Linked DNA regions of Homo sapiens. The protein of the gene in region 1 purifies or fractionates together with the protein of each later gene. This does not show direct contact. Each region holds a gene or a part of one and is shown in the gene's direction. Other genes may lie near its edges.

Evidence for each region.
Region 2: the proteins of MOXD1 (region 1) and SPPL2B purify together in Homo sapiens (affinity purification with mass spectrometry; 2 studies listed by BioGRID and IntAct, with this or other methods). This does not show direct contact.
Region 3: the proteins of MOXD1 (region 1) and PON2 purify together in Homo sapiens (affinity purification with mass spectrometry; 2 studies listed by BioGRID and IntAct, with this or other methods). This does not show direct contact.

The regions. Positions count from the first base shown.
Region 1 is NC_000006.12:132,391,408-132,398,533, reverse strand, and holds part of MOXD1 (DBH-like monooxygenase protein 1 precursor), read left to right. Parts: intron 1-6,274; exon of another isoform or gene 6,275-6,824; coding exon of another isoform or gene 6,825-6,827; intron 6,828-7,126.
Region 2 is NC_000019.10:2,352,560-2,355,597, forward strand, and holds the end of SPPL2B (signal peptide peptidase-like 2B isoform 2 precursor), read left to right. Parts: intron 1-386; coding exon 387-650; 3' UTR 651-2,536; downstream 2,537-3,038. UniProt on the Homo sapiens protein: Intramembrane-cleaving aspartic protease (I-CLiP) that cleaves type II membrane signal peptides in the hydrophobic plane of the membrane. Functions in ITM2B and TNF processing.
Region 3 is NC_000007.14:95,411,007-95,418,132, reverse strand, and holds part of PON2 (serum paraoxonase/arylesterase 2), read left to right. Parts: intron 1-1,835; coding exon 1,836-1,891; exon of another isoform or gene 1,892-1,944; coding exon of another isoform or gene 1,945-1,961; intron 1,962-5,655; coding exon 5,656-5,821; intron 5,822-6,353; coding exon 6,354-6,480; intron 6,481-7,126. UniProt on the Homo sapiens protein: Capable of hydrolyzing lactones and a number of aromatic carboxylic acid esters. Has antioxidant activity. Is not associated with high density lipoprotein.

The DNA.
Region 1 (7,126 bases):
GGCATCAATAAATGCACAGCAGCCACTAAGAGTTGGACAATTACACCAGGGTGTATGATAATAACCTAAGTTGCTATCCTAGTCACCTCATCATGTGGCTTTTTGGCATGTATTTTATTTTATCCTTTTAAATTTAATTTTAAACTAAAACTTTAGTTTTTAAAAATTTTTCTGACTTTTATTTTCCTAATTATATTAAACTCTTCTTTCAAAAGGGTGTTAACTCCTTGAGAACTATGTAAGTGTAAATTTTTATCGATCAGGTAGAGAATCATTGGCTTAATAGATGTCACAAGTCCAAATGTCTATAGATGTCAGGAAATAAATCTAAGAGTGACTGGAGGCCATTAACTTAAGTGAAACAAGCTAGATGCAGAAAGATAAATACTGCATGTTCTCACTTATAAGTGGGAGATAAATAATGTGTACACAAGGATGTGGAGTGTGGAATGATAGACAATAGAGACTCAAAAGGGTGAAGGAGTGGGAAGGTGTGGAGGAATAGAAATTACTTATTTGTTACAATGTATGTTATTTGGGTTATGGATACACTAAAAGCCCTGACTTCACCACTATGCAATCTCTGTGTGTAAAGAATCTGCACTTGTAACGCATACATTTATATAAATTAAAAAATGAGAAAAAAGAGTGATGAGAGCTTGAATGGAACAGGCAGGATGTAATGCAACAGAGAGGAGATGGCACTGAGGGAACTGGGGGTTTTGTGAGTGAATTACTGTTAAAAAGGAATGTAAATTCAGTATTGCCAGATCTTCTGTTTGTTCTTTTATTTTGAGAGAAGACAAAATTTAGATTCTCTTTACTCTTTCTTTTTCTTTCTTTCTTTCTTTCTTTCTTTCTTTCTTTCTTTCTTTCTTTCTTTCTTTCTTTCTTTCTGTCTCTCTCTCTCTCTCTCTCTCTGTGAGTGTGTGTGTGTGTGTTTAAATAAAAATCTAATTACTAAATACTGGCAACAATTCAACCATCATATAGTGTGCATTCACACACACTCACACACAATTTCAGCTGGGATATATCTTATAGACAGCCTAATCTGGGACTCAGAGAGAAAGTCTAATGTTAATAAAGAATCAACCCAAATAATGAAAATTCATGAAAGGCAGAGAAGCAAGTCCCATTTCTTTTTAGGCCAGTTCTATTCTATGCCAGGAAATGGGTCCAGTATTGGGGGCTTTGCCCATTGTTCTGGCTGTCTATTCTTGGTAACAAACCATCTCCATACAGAGTAGCTTAACGCAATGACAAATTTCTTTTGCTCACAAGTCTGAAATTTGGTGGGGACAACTCCAAAGTGGGTGGTTGGAAGAATATGAAGCCTTGTTTCCTTGAAGTTATGGCTGGCAGTTGATGTTGGCTCTTGGCAGGGACCTTGCCTGGTGCTGTGGTAGGATCATAGCCTCTCTGTGTGGCTGCTTGACTTTGTCACAGCATGGTGGCAGGTCCCAAGAGGGAACCAAGAGGCCAGGTGGCAACTGTACAGCCTTTTATGACTTAGTCTTTCACTGTGGTCACAAGCCCACTAGATTCAAGAGGGAATGTAGACTCTATCTGAACATCACGTAAGAAGACAGTCACATGGGAATTCAGCAGTGAAGCCCCAAGTCTTGGACTTTCTATGTTGGGGGAGACTTTTTATTACTGATTCAATCTCATTACTGATTGTTGGTCTATTCAGGTTTTTTAGTTCTTCTTGATTCAGTCTTGGTAGGTTGTATGAGTCAAGGAATTTATCTATTTCCTCTAGGTTTTCTAGTTTGTGAGTGTATTGTTGTTCATAATAGTCCCTGATAATCTGTTGCATTTCTTTGATATCAGTTATACTTGTCTATTTTTTCATTTTTGATTTTATGTGGGTATTCTCTTTTTTTCTTGGTTATTCTAGCAAGTTGTTTATCAAGTTTGTTAATCTTTTCAAAAAACTAACTTCCTTTTATTGATCCTTTGTATTTTTTTTGTCTCTGTTTTGTTTAGTGTTGCTCTGATCTTTATTATTTCTTTTCTCCTACTAATTTTGGGTGTGGTTTTTCTTGTTCTTCTAGTTTTTTTTAGGTGAATTATTAGATCATTTATTTGAAATCTTTCTACTTTTTGATGTAGGTGTTTGTTGCTATAAACTTTCCTGTTAGCACTGCTTTTACTGTACCCTATAGGTTTTGATATGTTATGTTTCCATTTTATTTCAGAATTTTTTTTTCCTCTTTAATTTCTTTCTTGACCCATTGGTCATTCAGGAGTATGTTGTTTAATTTTCATGTATTTGTGCAGTTTCCAAAGTTCCTCTTGTTATTGGTTTCCAGTTTTATTTCATTGTGGTCTGAGAAGATACTTGATATGATTTCGATTTTTTAAAATTTGTTGAGACTTGTTTTGTGTCCTCACATATGGGCTGTCCTAAGGAATGTTTCATGTGCTGATGAGAGGAATGTATATTCTGTAGCTGTTGGATGAAATGTTCTGTAAATGTCTGTTAGGTCCATTTAGTCTAATGTGTAATTTAAATCCAATGTTTCTTTGTTAATTTTCTGTTTAGATGACCTGTCTAATGCTGAGAGTGGGCTATTAACGTTCCTATTACTGTGTTGGAGTCTATCACTCCCTTTAGATCTAATAATAATTGCTTTATAGATCTGGGTGTTTTGGTGTTGAGTGCATATGTATTTAGAATTGTTGTATTTCTAAATATATATGCAGCTCTTGCTGAGTTGATCCCTTTATTATTACATAATGACATTCTTTGTCACTTTTTAGTGTTTTATACTTAAGGTATGTTTCACCTGATATAAGCATAGCCACTCATGCTCACTTTTGATTTTTGTTTGCATGGAAGTTCTTTTCCCATCCTTTAATTTCAGTTAGTATATGGCTTTACAGGTGAGATGAGTATGGTAAGCAGTGTATAGTCAGGTCATGTTTTTTAACCCATTCAGCCAGTCTGTATTTTTAAGTGAAAGTTTTAATTTGTTTACATTCCGGGTTATTATTGATATGTGAGAGCTTATTCTTCTTATTTTATTAACTGATTTCTAGTTGTTTTGTGTATCCTCTGTTCCTTTCTTACTCTCTTATTTTTTATTATTGTGGTTTTGTGGTTTTTCTGTAGTGGTAACCTTCTAGTCTTTTCCTTCTTTGTATGTTTGCTCTAGTAGTTTTTATATTTCATGTGTTTTAATGATATTAGATATTGTTCTTTCACTTTTGGGTGTAGGACTCCCTTGGCATTTCTTATAGATCTGGTCTAGTGGTGATAAATTCCCTCAGCTTTTGCTTGTCTGGGAAAGACTTCATTTCTCTTTCATTTTATAAAGAATAACTTTTCTGGGTATGGTATCCTTGGTTGGCAGTTTTTTTTCCTTTCAGCATCTTGAATATATCAGCCCATTCTTTCCTAGTCTATAAGGTTTCTGCTGTTAGTCTAGTCTGACAGACGTACCTTTATAAGTGACTTGATGCTTTTCTCTTGCTTTTTTGAGTTTTCTCTGTGTCTTTCACCTCTGATATTTTGACTATAATGTGCTGAGCAGAAGAACTTTTTGAATTGTATCTATATGGAGAACTTTGAGCCTCTTGTTTCTGGATATCTAAAGTTTTTTGCAAGACTTGGGAAGTTTTTATCTATTGTTTTGTTAAATAGGTTTTCTAACTCCTTCATTTTCTCTTCACCTTCTCAGATCCTAAATTCAAATACTTGGTCACTTTATGATGTTATATAGGCTTTGCTCATTCTTTTTTTATCCTTTTAATTTATTTTTGTCTGAGTTATTTCAAAATACCTCTCTTCAAGTTCTGAGATTCTTTTGCTTCATCTAGTCTGTTGTTGAAACTTTAGAATGTATTTTTTATTTAATTCAATGAATTCTTCAGTTGTAGAATTTCTGTTTGGTCTCTTTTTTTATGACATCTATCTCTTTGGTAAATTTCTCATTTATTTCCTGAATTGCTTTTCTGGTTTCTTTGCATTATTTTTCAGTATTCTGTTGTGTCTTACTGAGCTTCTTTAAAATCAATATTTTGAATTCTTTTTTGGGGGGTATTTCTTAAATTTCTTTTTGATGAGAATCTGTTGCTGGATAATTATGGTGTGCCTTTGGAGATACCATATTTCCTTATTTTTTCATGCTTCTTGTGTCCTTACATTGATCATTTGTGCATCTGATATAACAGTTGCTCCAGTTTTTTGAATTTGCTTTCATAGGGGATGACATTTCTTGAAGATTTATCTACGGTGTTGGCTGGGTAGGGCACTTTGGCCTTGACTCTAGGTGTGGGTGGTTGTATAGTCTCTGTGTAATTTTTCCAGCTGTAAACAGTGTCAGTGGTGTCTGTGATTTCCTCAGTGGTTTAGGGTGTGATTATTAGTGGAGGTTGTGGTGAAGTTTTGCTGGGAACTAGGACATTAGGTGGGCCAGTCTTTGGGCCTCAGTGGTGGCAGCAGTGGGTTGAGCATTAGCCTCTCCAGGTGCTGGGAATATCATGGTGGGTCAGGAGGATGGGCAGGTTATCATGCTTCTGGGTAGCAGGTATGCTGTGGCAATGGCAGTAGCTGTGGTGGGACAACTTTCTGGAACCCAAGTGGTCAGTGCTGGTGTTGGTGATGTCCATGATGAACTGGGCAAGCTGGTCCTCAGTCCTGCAGATGGCACATGAAAATGTATAGCTGCCTTTTTGTTGGGGTGGCAAGGTCACTTCCAGTGGCTCCTGCCTCAGCCCAACAGTGGTGTCTGTGGGTGATGAGTGTCAGTTGGGCTCCAGGGATATGGAGGTGCAGGGGCTCTTGGGCCCCCAGGCAGAACACATTCTGGCAGGGGCGGGGCTTTCATAATGGCACAGTGCTGCAGCTGCTTAGGACTTGGGGGTTTGTAGGACTCAGCATGAGCTCCCTGTCTAGAACAATGCCATTATGTGATCTCTAGGCAGTTCTCTGTGAGTCTCAGGGCCCATGAGAGTCCAGGGGCTCTCCTATGGCTAGCATTGTAGAATTCTGTGGCAGGAATGTGGACCACTTGGTGTCTCTCACTTACCCTTTCCTCACATTAAGGAGCCTCTCCGGGCTCCCAGCTGATCCCAGCTAAGCTGGCTTCCTTGCTTCCCTCTCCTTCCTTGCTTTCAGTGCTTCCCATCACTTCTCTGTTGAATTCCAGTATTCTCTCTCAGATGATCTATTCAAAATGTGATTATCTAATTGCTATTTTAGCTCCTCTCTCTGGAAAAGGTGAGTACCAGATGCATTTAGTCAGCCATCTTGAAGCTTCCTGTCTACATGCATCCTTTCTCTGTTGGCACTACTGAAATTGGGGGCAATCTTTACTTATTCTCCTTTCCTTTTCCCACCCCCTTCTCTGTCTGACACACACACACACACACTCACTCCACTCACAAGGAGTTGGAAGCAGTTGGTAATTTTTCAACTGTCCTCCTATTCTATACCCTCTCCACCCTAGAAAAAGACTTCTGAAATTCAGCAACCATATATTTTTCAGTAGCTGGCAATCATTAATTCAGGGTTAGATCCAATGAGACTACCTCCAGAGGGCAGTGTGACATTTACCTGCAGACCTGTGGAGTTAAGAAATCAGATTTTACTTAAGGCCACAGGCCCTTTAAAACTATATCCAGGGACCTGGCATATGGAAATTTGCGCTGCCCATTTTAACCTTTTTGACTCCTTCTGGAGATATTTCCGCAAAGAGGATATTAACAGGTATGATCAAGATGGGAAAGAAAAGAGAGAAATGTGGTTGTAAAGTGAAGCCTATCTCAACATAATCTATTGGATAAATTGTTCTGGAGCAGCTCATGCTTGTGGAAACATTTCCCTTGAATGCTGCCGAGGTCAGTTTCTACACCATCTTTCACAGAAGTGTCAGGGTGAGGTGGGAAGCCATCTCCTTTTGCACTGGCTTTTCAAAACCTCACTATTTTGTCTCAGTGAATCAGTTCAGCTCTCATTGCCCTGATGGATTCATGTCCTTTCCTTGTTCTTTGCCCCTTTTTGACACAGAGCAACTCCACCCCCGCCCGAATCATTTAGCAACTGTGAGTGCCCATTTGAGGCAAGTAATGCAGCCGATGAATGCTGAGTTTGTGTGAATTAGAGAAGAGAGCAACGTTGTTGAATATGCCTGTTGAATTTGCATGAAAATTGATTCACCCTTCTTATGGGGGTATAAATCGCTGGTGAATGGAGGCTGAAACATATGTTATCATTTCTTACAGCCTTGCTTGCTTGTCTCAAAAACTGAGGCCTGTGATGCGAAGTGTCTTCAGCAGCAGGGTAATTGCTGCCGGGCCACTTGCTGAGGAAGTGCTTGGAACTGATTTGAAATCACAGAAAACAGTGAGCATTCTTTGTGGTTAACGATGTGCTTCTTTTAAGCACACCCCAGCCAACGGCGACAAAGAAATGTTTGGAAAGCAAATTGAAAGGCTGTAAGGGAGAGATGAAGAGAGTGTGCAACCCTGACACAGCTCAGCTGGTGCTTTGTTAAGAGATATTTATAAGTCTTCAGATTATGCCCCCCAATTTCCAGGCAACGAAGAGACTTCTCCAAGTGTCGTGCTTTGTGCATTAGTAATAAGGACACATGCTCCACAGTAATGCTGGAACACAGGATGATGCTCTTCAGCTGTGTGCTTCTTCCTGGCGGAGCAGATGATTTCATAATTAGCCTGAGGAAACAGGCAGACCTAACAGCCAAGGAAACAATGCACCTGAATTGACAAACGAAGTTCAAGGCTTTAGGCAACCAATGGCATATTTCTAGAGTGTTGGAAGGAGAGGCAAGAGTCTACTTCAAAGAAACTGAATGGTGGTTTATTGATTTTTCATTTGTAATAGAGCCATATTAAAATAAAGTTACTGGTGAAGGGGATGAATTCATTACACATTGTCATGTTTCTGGAAGTATTTGATCCATACGTAATACAAAAAAACTGCGTATGGATGACTCACAATGCTTTTTATTGTAACTTAAAAAAAACTGGTAAAGAACTTTTAAACAGGAAAAACATTTCTCCAGGAAGCTTCTTCTAAATCTATTTCTTTTTAACTTGTTAAATTTCAGTAGAAAAAAAAAGCTGTTCATAAGGACACCATATAGCATATACG
Region 2 (3,038 bases), on another chromosome or scaffold:
GCCCCAGGGAGAAGTCTCCTGGGGCCAGCACCCCCACCCCAAAGGTCTCCCCATTCTGATGGGCATTTCAGAAGGTTCAGGAGAAGCCGGGGACCAGGCCCAGGGGCGAGAGACGGTAGTCCAGGCTTTTCTTTGGAGAGGCTTTGCACAGCTCCCAGCCTCTGCTGGCCTCGGATGGCCCTCCCGCGGCACCTGTGCCGATGGACAGGGTCCTGGGTGCCCGTAGGTTATGGAGCCGGCCCCCTCCTTGGGTCCAGAGCCCCTGGGGATGGCGCCTCATTTTGACCCTGCCCCCGTGGCCTGCGGGTGCTGGGTGTCCTGGCCCCTGCCAGGGTCCTCCTCTGGGTCCCTGTCTCCGCCTCACCTCTGCCTCCCTTCTCCTGTAGAAAGTCCTACCTCCATCTCCGTGGGCCCCAGCACCAGCCGACGGCCCGCAGCCTCCCAAAGACTCTGCCACGCCACTCTCCCCGCAGCCGCCCAGCGAAGAACCAGCCACATCCCCCTGGCCTGCTGAGCAGTCCCCAAAATCACGCACGTCCGAGGAGATGGGGGCTGGAGCCCCCATGCGGGAGCCTGGGAGCCCAGCTGAATCCGAGGGCCGGGACCAGGCCCAGCCGTCCCCGGTAACCCAGCCTGGCGCCTCGGCCTAGGGGAGGGGTGAGACGCTCGCTGCCGTGCCCGCCACACCAAGATGTTGGGGCTGCCTGGCGCCCACTGGAGACAGACAGACAGACGCCTGTCCCCCGGGACCGAGGCCTGTGCCGTCCCCACCCGCCCCAACATGGTGCTCATCCTTGCCGAGACCCCTGCGGTCTGTGCCCGCGCCCAGCCCAGCTGCCCCGGCTGCACGCCTGCTGCTCCCAGCTCGCCCGGCTGCCACAAGCTCTCTGCGGGTCCATCCTCCCCACCGGGGTCCGTCCTCGCAGGCCCTGCCCGGCCTCTCTGCAGACCCTCAAGCGTCGTCTGCATGAGTGAGCAGGCGTGGGTGGACTCTGGCCGCGGCCACACTTGGTGCTCACCAGCTGCTTCGGCCTTCAGGTGACCTCCCTCCCCACGGCATCCTGCTCTCCGGGTGGAAGAGCAGCTTTCTGTCTCCCAGAAGGCATCGCTTTTCCCTCTTGAGCAGATCGGAGCCCCTGGGAGGTTTGGAAGCTGCCTCCAAGCCTAGGACACGGACCAGTGGCCGGGGCGGCCTCTGGCCCCTGACGCTGGCTGAGACAGGCCCGTGGGGCGGGGTTTTGGGGCGTGAACAAGGCTGGCAGTAAGTGGACAAGCTGCTCCCCTGGCTAAGGCCCTGCCCTGCCCTCAGCCAGAGGTGCCTGGCCATGCCTGCACACTCCTCCCCATTTTAATAAATGGTCGCAACTTCTAGAAGTCCTGCTGGTGCCACCTGGTGGGGTGGACGTCTCTCAGACTGCCCTTCTGACAAGCAGGGGTGGGCGCCAGGCAGGCTGGGTCAGGCCCTCAGGGGTCCCTGGAGCCCTGGGAGGGAGGGACTGGGTCGTGGGAGGTCCTGGTAGCTCCCGGCACCCAACCTCGCTTCCCGTGTGGGCCCCGTGTTGCTTTTCTGCTGAGAGGGGCTTGGGCCTCGGTTCTCCCTGTGGCAGCGGCATTGGTGCCTGGGTTCTTAACCCTCTGGACCCAGCAGCTAGGAGCTTCTGGAACCCACGAGGACATCTGCCACTGGCATGGTCTACTCACTGATGGGGTCCTCCTGACTCCAGGGCAGAGACGTCCGTGCGGGAACTGACCGAGGCGTGGCCCCAGGCCCCGGCATCCTCCCCTCGCTGCACGTGGTCACTTCCGAAGCAGCGCTCCCTGTGGCCGCAGAGACAGAGCCCGCACCCTGGCTGTCTGTGGTGCCTGGGCCCCAGCTCCCGCCCGCCACCCGCCCTGTTGAGTGCGGCCTCCAGACTCGAGTCCAGAATCTGTTTCTGTCAAGTCAGTCGTCCCCAGCTGCACACGGGGACTGCTGAGCGCTGCGCTCTCACGGGTCTGTTCCGGACAGAGGGTGGCAGGGGTGAGCCCTGATCCCTTACAAAAAATACCAGCTTCCCAGGGAGTAATGGCGCCTTCACTGAAGCCATTTTGTACATGGGGACGGGGTGGGGACGTCTCTTTTTTGGTGTTGGACGTTTGACCAGTGGGGAGGGGTTCAGAGGCGGCGGTCCTGTCCTTGGCTCCGTCTGTCCGTGTGGCCTTGCTGCCATTCCGTCTGATCATTAAACACAGCTTTTGATACATATGGCCCGGCCTCTGCCTCCGCAGTGCACGGCTTGGGGCATCTGCTCTGTGCAGGTCCCGGTGAGCAGAACTGAGAGCTGGCAGGCCGCCTGGCTGTCCTGCAGAGGACGGATTGGAATTGCCACCGCAGGGCCGGCCAGTGCTGTGAGGTGCCCAGCGTCACTCCCATGGGCTCTGTGGGCCATGTGGTCCCTGTCACGCTTCTCAGCTCTGCCACTGTTGCTGGAAAGCATCACAGACCATGTGTAAAATGGGCCAAAATACCTTTTACAAAATTAAAATAGAGATGGGGTCTTGCAGTGTTGCTGAGGCTGATCTCGAACTGCTGAGCTCAGACAATCCTCCTGTCTCGGCCTCCCAAAGCGCTGCAATTACAGGCACGAGCCACCACGCCCATCCCTCAAGTAATTTTCTCGCCAGACCCTGAAATTGGAATTGTATAGCATCCTCACGTCTCAAAAGAGTTTATTATTATTTTTTTCTCTTTAAAAATGCAAAGACCTGTCTTAGCCGCTTTGGGACAAGGTTTGGTTTCCAGCTGCTGCTGGCTGGCGCTGGGCCTGTGGGCACGTGGGTGATGGATGCGGGTTTGTGTGCGGGCCGAGAGGCCAGTGAGTCCTGAGCATCTGCCAGGCATCAGGGGCTGCTGTGTGTGTTGTTCTAGTCTCACAAAGTTCTCCGCTACGTTAGAGAAAGTGAGACCCAGGCTGGGCATGGTGGCTCACGCCTGTAACCCCAGTGCTTTGGGAGGCTGAGGTGGGAGGATTGCTTGAGCCTGGGAGTTTAAGACCAGC
Region 3 (7,126 bases), on another chromosome or scaffold:
CAGTAGTGGCTATAGAAATGATGACGGGGAGAAGATCTGGAAAATATTCCAAAGAAGGCTACAGATAGATACATTTTTTCCATTGGAATTAGGCAATGGAGTTAAACAGAAGTTACAATATGGTTGAAATAAATGTATTTTTTTAAAAAAAGATTTCTCTTTCCTTAATTATTAAAAAATATACAATTTTGTAGAAAATTTTAAACAAAGTATAAAGAAAAAAATAAAAATCATTCATAATCCTATCAAAGAAGCATTGTTAATTTTTTCTATATATCTTCTTTTTCCACGTGTATACTTGGAAATTAAATTTTCTAAAATAATTTTCAGGAAAAACAAATTTTAATTAATTGAGCTTCTACTAAATAGGACTGAAAAGCAAAACCTGGACTAGAATTCTCTCTCGGTGTGTGTGTGTGTGTGTGTGTGTGTGTGTGTGTGTCTGTGTGTACATGTGTATGTGCTGTGTATACATGTGTATGTGGTGTAGCGTTCCCCTGATTCTTAACTTATTACCAGTGGACAACCACCGTGGAACTAGAGTCTAGTCATTCTTAACCTTTTTGGGGGAATCACAGTCTCTTTTTTGAATCTGATGAAAATCAAGGACCGTTTTTACAGAAACGTTCTCATCTGTGCATACATGAGACATTTTGCATTGCATAGAATTTCCGAGGGTTCACAGATACTTTGAAGCCCAAAAGTGATCCACAGACCCCAGATTGAGAACTCCTCCGCTATGCCATGCTTAAGCTTATTTCTGTGTATCTTCTTTCTGAGGAGCAGGCAGATGGGTCATCTTTACAATGTGAAGTTCTTGGCATTTTTATTTTGTTTTGTTTTTCTGCACTACGATGGAGCAAGCAACACTGGAGGCAACTGGCTAAATGCAAACTCATGAAGCAAGACCAAAATGGCTGGATAGATAGATGCTGTTTGGTTTTGACAACCTAGAAATAACCTTGAAGAAATCCTATGGAGAAGTCTTAAAGAGGAAGATTGGATTTTGTAGACTCAAAGAATGTGTCATGGTTTGGCTTAATCTAAGCCATTTTTATTCTTCTTTTCTTGTGTTTGGGTCTATTATCTGTCTGTAGAATTTATACAGTGAGACTGCTGGGGAAAGTCTTATGTCTAATTATTTGCTGTGCTGTGTGGAGTGTACTGCAGACAGTCAATAAACAATCAATAGTAATTGTAGCCTGCCTCAGAGACAGGAGTTAGAAACTTCAACTGGCTTAGGTGCATGGTATTTTTCATTAATTTTCTTCTGCTAGTTTTTTTCTCTAATTTAAAGCCTAAATTTAAAGATTAAATAGAAAAGCTTTCTTTGCTTATGAGCACAAGTAGGCACTGTTTTTAAAAGAAGGAATATATAATCCCAGGTGTTTTACCTCTGTTAATGAGAAAGATGTCTGTTTGCTTCAGATTGAATGAGCAAAGAAGAGGACAAGGATATTTGCATGGTTAAATGCCTATGAGCCCTTCCTTCAGAAAGTAATATTCCCCTGATGTCAATTACTTTTATACGGACATCTGGATGTTTATCATGAGAGTGTACAGATGTCAACTTTTTCAGTATTATAGCTGGAAATGTGGTGATAACTTGACTTTGATTTGAGTAAACATAAAATATCTAACATTTAAAGTCAGAAGTTCACTTCAGGAAGGGGTTTAAACTGACATTTATTAAAAAGAATGGTTCCTTGGAAAAAACATCAGAACCATCCCTAAAGATACAGTCACTCTGATAAAGTAAACAGAGTCCCAGTTATGCTCTGTGTAACAAATAACAGAACTTGAACATGACATTTATCTGTTCCTTAAACTTACAGAAGCTGGCTCTGAAGATATTGACATACTTCCCAATGGTCTGGCTTTTTTTAGTGTGGTGAGTGTCTTCTTCCTTCCCCAAATTCAGCAGAGGAGATACAAGGGTATTTGATGAGGGCTGCAGAACAGTAAGTTGCTTTTAAAATTCATTTTCCAAAATGCATTCTGAAGAAAAGAGAGGTCAAACAAGATCTTGGAAAACTTCCTCCAGCTTTTCTAAATGTAGAGATGAAGACTCTTTGCCCATTGAGATAGTGTTCTTTATTTCCCCATTGCATTGCACTAAAATATTCCAATGCAATCTGTGTTTTGTTTTGTTTTTTCTTTTTTAATTTTTTTTATTTTTTGAGACGGAGTCTTGTTCTGGTTGCCCCGGCTGGAGTGCAGTGGCATGATCTCAGCTTACTGCAACCTCCGCCTCCCGGGTTCAAGCAATTCTTTTGCCTCAGCCTCCCGAGTAGCTGGGATTACAGGCGCCCGCCACCATGCCCGGCTAATTTTTGTATTTTTAGTAGAGATGGGGTTTCGCCGTGTTGGCCAGGCTGGTCTCAAACACCTGACCTCAGGTGATCGCCTGCCTCAGCCTCCCAAAGTGCTGGCATTACGGGAGTGAGCCACCACGCCCAGCGCAATCTGTGTTTTAAATGTGCACTATTAAGAGGGATATTTGAGGTCTTACTGTGGATACTCAATACTAACATTATACTATTTTAAATACAGCATCTACTCATCTTTCTATTACTATTCAACTTGAAGCAAATATTCTTGCCATTATTATTTATTTTCAAATATTATACCAACCTTGCCCTTTTGCTTTCTTTCTTTTTTCCCCTGAATAGCCAATCATAAGTGGAAAGTCATTGAGTTTATTTACACCCTTCATTTTGCCTTGATTCTTGTAAGCTGAAAAACAATATCCTTTCTGGGTATACAATAGAAAGACTTTAAAAACAATTGGCTTGTGAATATTGTTGTGAATATTGTTGAAACTAGCTTGTAACAATGTCCATTCTAATTGGAAATCCAGATAAGGGGACAGATGAGGAGGTTCTGACCACCTACCTCCCTGGCTTGGGCAGACATAGGAGTTCTTGGCATCTTCATAGGTCCAGTTTTTCTGGAGGAAGAAGTAACCAACTCTGACACCTGACTGTAATTATTCCATTTCCTCTCAACATCCATTATTTTCAGGCTCTGAGACTCAAGAGGGATGTGAAATACTGGGAGATACTTAGAAGGGAGTCACCACACTAATAAAATAGTTGTTAGACTTATGAGAAAGGTGAGAGAACTCAGGTTGGAGTAGAATGAGAATTAGAACACTCTTCAGGTTCCTGATGGTTTTTATGTGAAAGACAGTGAGCAGCTGGTTATTACCACTGAGGCAATAAAGAGATACTGTGGGCTTTAGCAGAAACACCAGTATATGTATTTAGTTTTTAAAATAAGGTTTTAAAAGGAATGTTTTATTTAATTGCCTACACAGAATGAATAAAGTGATATTTATAGTAGGACTCTGGGTTTGTTTAGGAGCACATGCTTGCACATGTGTGGCTTAGGAAAAACCACTGGGACCACTAGTCTAAAATATTCATAAGTAAAGATGCAAACATTCTGAATAAAGTAGAAGGCAGTTGCATTGATTTTTTTATTTGTTTATTTGTGTTTTTTGTTGTTGTTTTGCAAGGATGTGTTCTTGGAGATTTTTATAATCTAGAATTCACCTATTTCAAGATTTCTCTCCAGCCCCCATAGTAATAAATCTGAAGTAGGAGGGATGAGGTCTCCAAACACATAAATCTACAGCCATTTTAGCTTGGGGGCATGTTATAGTTACAAAGATCTTATAGCCATATCAATAGAACTTTTTCTGCTTTTTTTCTGTTACCCTCCTTTGCTCATTTGACTTTTTTTAAAATTTAGAAACATTCCCAGTTTGCTGCTGTTTTTCATTTACTTGGCATTGTCTCTAATAAAACCTAGAGTGTACTCTCTTCTAAATAAAGAGGTCCTACATTGTGGAGGTTGTTCATTCTTCTTCCTAGCATTTTAGCTCATCTAACCCAACCTATTTTACAGTTATGGGTTGAGGGTCACCTCAAAACTAATGTCACACTTCATGAAGAATTGGATGACATAGAATAAAATATAAAAAATGTAAACAATGTGAGTGTGCTTAACACCACTGAACTGTACACTTAAAAATGGTGAAAGTGATGAATGTTGTATGTATTTTATCATAATTAAAAATAAATTTTTAAAAAGAGAAAAAATACTTAAATAAATAAGGAGTGCGAACATAACCATGACTAGTTATCACCATCTGATAGTGCTTCCTTTGCATGTAAATCATGCTTTTGTTTTGGGGACATTCATAAAGAATAGGGATTAACTGAAGTGGCACTGCCATGTAACAATAGCATAATTCCAGTTTGTTCTACTTACCAGGCTTGCCCTCCATGAAAATATACAATTGTAGATAATCTTTTTTAATTGGAGAGATTTCCTCTTATGTCCAATTTTATACATAAAGTAAGACTTTTTTATTGTGTGCCTAAATTTGTGTAAATATGACTGCATCGTATTAGTAAACTGAATTAGGTAGTGCATTCACATAAAATTTAACATCACCAAGAAGGCTTTACCTTAAGAATGTAATGATGAATCACCATTTTAGATAGACTGATAGGTAATTTATTAACTGATTTAAAAGAGAAAAGACCTATATCATCTCAGTGAGTACCAAAAAGCATTTAATAAAATTCAATACTCATTCCTAAAGTTCCAAGCAAACTAGAAAGATAAGGAAAATTCCCACAAAACTACAGCAAACATCATTCTTGATGGTGAAGCATTGGCTGCATTTGCATTAATGCTCAGAACAGGAAGAAAATACCCAACACCACAACCATCAGTAATCTACTAGAGTTCTTAGTAATTCAGTAAAACGAGAAAAAGAAATGTGAGATAGAAAAGAAAAAGACAAAACTGTCATTAGAGAAGCAGGGACTGGCTCAATTGCCCAGGCTGATGTGCAGTAGTGCAATCATAGCTCACTGCAGCCTGAACTCCTAAACTCCTGCGCTCAAGAGGTCCTTCCACCTCAGCCTTCCGAGCAGCTAGGACTACAAGTGCTCACCATAACACTCAGCTAATTTTTTTTTTTTTTTTTTTTTTTTTTTTTGTAGAGACAGAGTCTTGCTATGTTGCCCAGGCTGGTCTCAAACTGCTGGCCTCAAGCAGTCCTCCCACGTCAGCCTCCCAAAGTGCTGGAATTATAGGCATGAGCCACCAGGCCTGACCTAAAGCTGTAGTAATTTAAAAAGTGTTATATTGGCACAGGAATAGACATGAGACATTAAAATAACAAAACAGAGAGTCCCTAAATAGACCAATATGTAAATGTCAGAGATCTAGCACATGATAAAGGTGATATTTTGAATCAGTGGGAGAAGGATGGACTGTATGCCAGGCACTGTTCCAGGCACTGGGATCTAGCAGTGAACAAATTTCCACAGTCAGTATGTAGATGTCACTTTTCTCCACCCTCAGCTCTCCCTGGAATCACCTAGTCCACCAACCTTCTGATTACTCTCTGAAGAGAATAAATCCCTGATCTTCTTTTCAGTTATTTTCAGGCTTTCAGTATTCCACCTCCCCGTTATTATTTTTTCTGTTATCTTTTCTCTGTTTTTTGAGTTTTTGTGGCTTTATGCCACTACTTTAACCACAATCTCTATTTATCCTTCATGTACAGTTCCCATGTTAGTCCATAAAAATACTTAAGCTTTTGTATTTAACATTTTTCACCGTTTTGGAAAGGGTCTAAAATTCCCAGGACTCCACAGCTTTGCACCAGATAAGCCTGGAGGAATACTAATGATGGATCTAAAAGAAGAAAAACCAAGGGCACGGGAATTAAGAATCAGTCGTGGGTTTGATTTGGCCTCATTCAATCCACATGGCATCAGCACTTTCATAGACAACGGTAAGAGCCAATGGGCTACCAACATTTAGTAACGTGTGATGGTTCACAAATGACTGTGAAAAATAGATTTGGATCATATTTCTAGGAAGAGAAGAACAATTAACTCATGAGTGATTTCTGTATTCTTCATTACAAAGAACTTGTTCATTTGCCTCTTCAGCTGGCAGTAAGTTATGCTACATTTTGAAATTCCTAACAGGTAACACCTGAAAGAATGTTTAGATTTCATAATCTTTTCATATACCTACGATCATCACATTTAAAAAAGAACTGTATTTTTGAATTAAAGTAGAAACAGATTATGCATGAATTCTGTATATGGAGTAGGAAACACTTTCTTAAAGGTCAGGGAGCCAATGATCAGAAATAACACCAGACGGACAGCAATAGGAAAGACAGAGAATGATCTGTTAGGTCGTCTAACAGCTTATACATTCAACCTTTCCTTGCCTGTGGTATTTAAATGTCAGTGCCTGCCCAGAGGTCCCGTAGTTATGTCTTGTAAATTAACTCTGTTCTTTCAATTCTTTAGATGACACAGTTTATCTCTTTGTTGTAAACCACCCAGAATTCAAGAATACAGTGGAAATTTTTAAATTTGAAGAAGCAGAAAATTCTCTGTTGCATCTGAAAACAGTCAAACATGAGCTTCTTCCAAGGTACTTCCTCATTTTGTTCCTTCTCTAATTTATCCCCAGCATTTGCAAACAATCCCTATGGTGGGTTGTCCTGTCATCTTTTATAAGCGCTAATGTATATATTAGCTAATATGTAAGAGCTAAAGAGCTTATATTTCCTTATTTATAAATGTGTGTGTATAGTTTCCTTATAAACCAGGGCAAGCATGGCATATGAAAGTTGATGTCACTCATACTATTCACTGTTCTATGCGGACTCCTTTGAGAAATGATGAAGTGCCCGACTACAGGGTGATACTCTTCAGGCCCATCTTGAGGGTAGAAGGCAAACCCTAACATTTTTTCCTGCTGTCACCCTCCATCTTAGATGACTCATCACCCAGATGAGTGTCTTGCCAAGGAAGAATGGCCTGTTTTTTATTGGGTTTGTATGCTTTGCATGGGACTTTATACCAATCGCTTTCATAGGGTTAGTGATGGTTGCATGCTAGTAATCCCACAGAATTAGAGCCACTCAAGTTGAGAGTGAGTCATTACACTTCAAGAACATAAAGCTGGTTGAAAATGTGGCTAAGAGAGAATCATGTGTACCCCCACCCCCAGTTCAGTGTGTATTAGCCTACTGCTTCTTTTAGTTTAAACTTGATGAATATTTTTAATTTCTAAT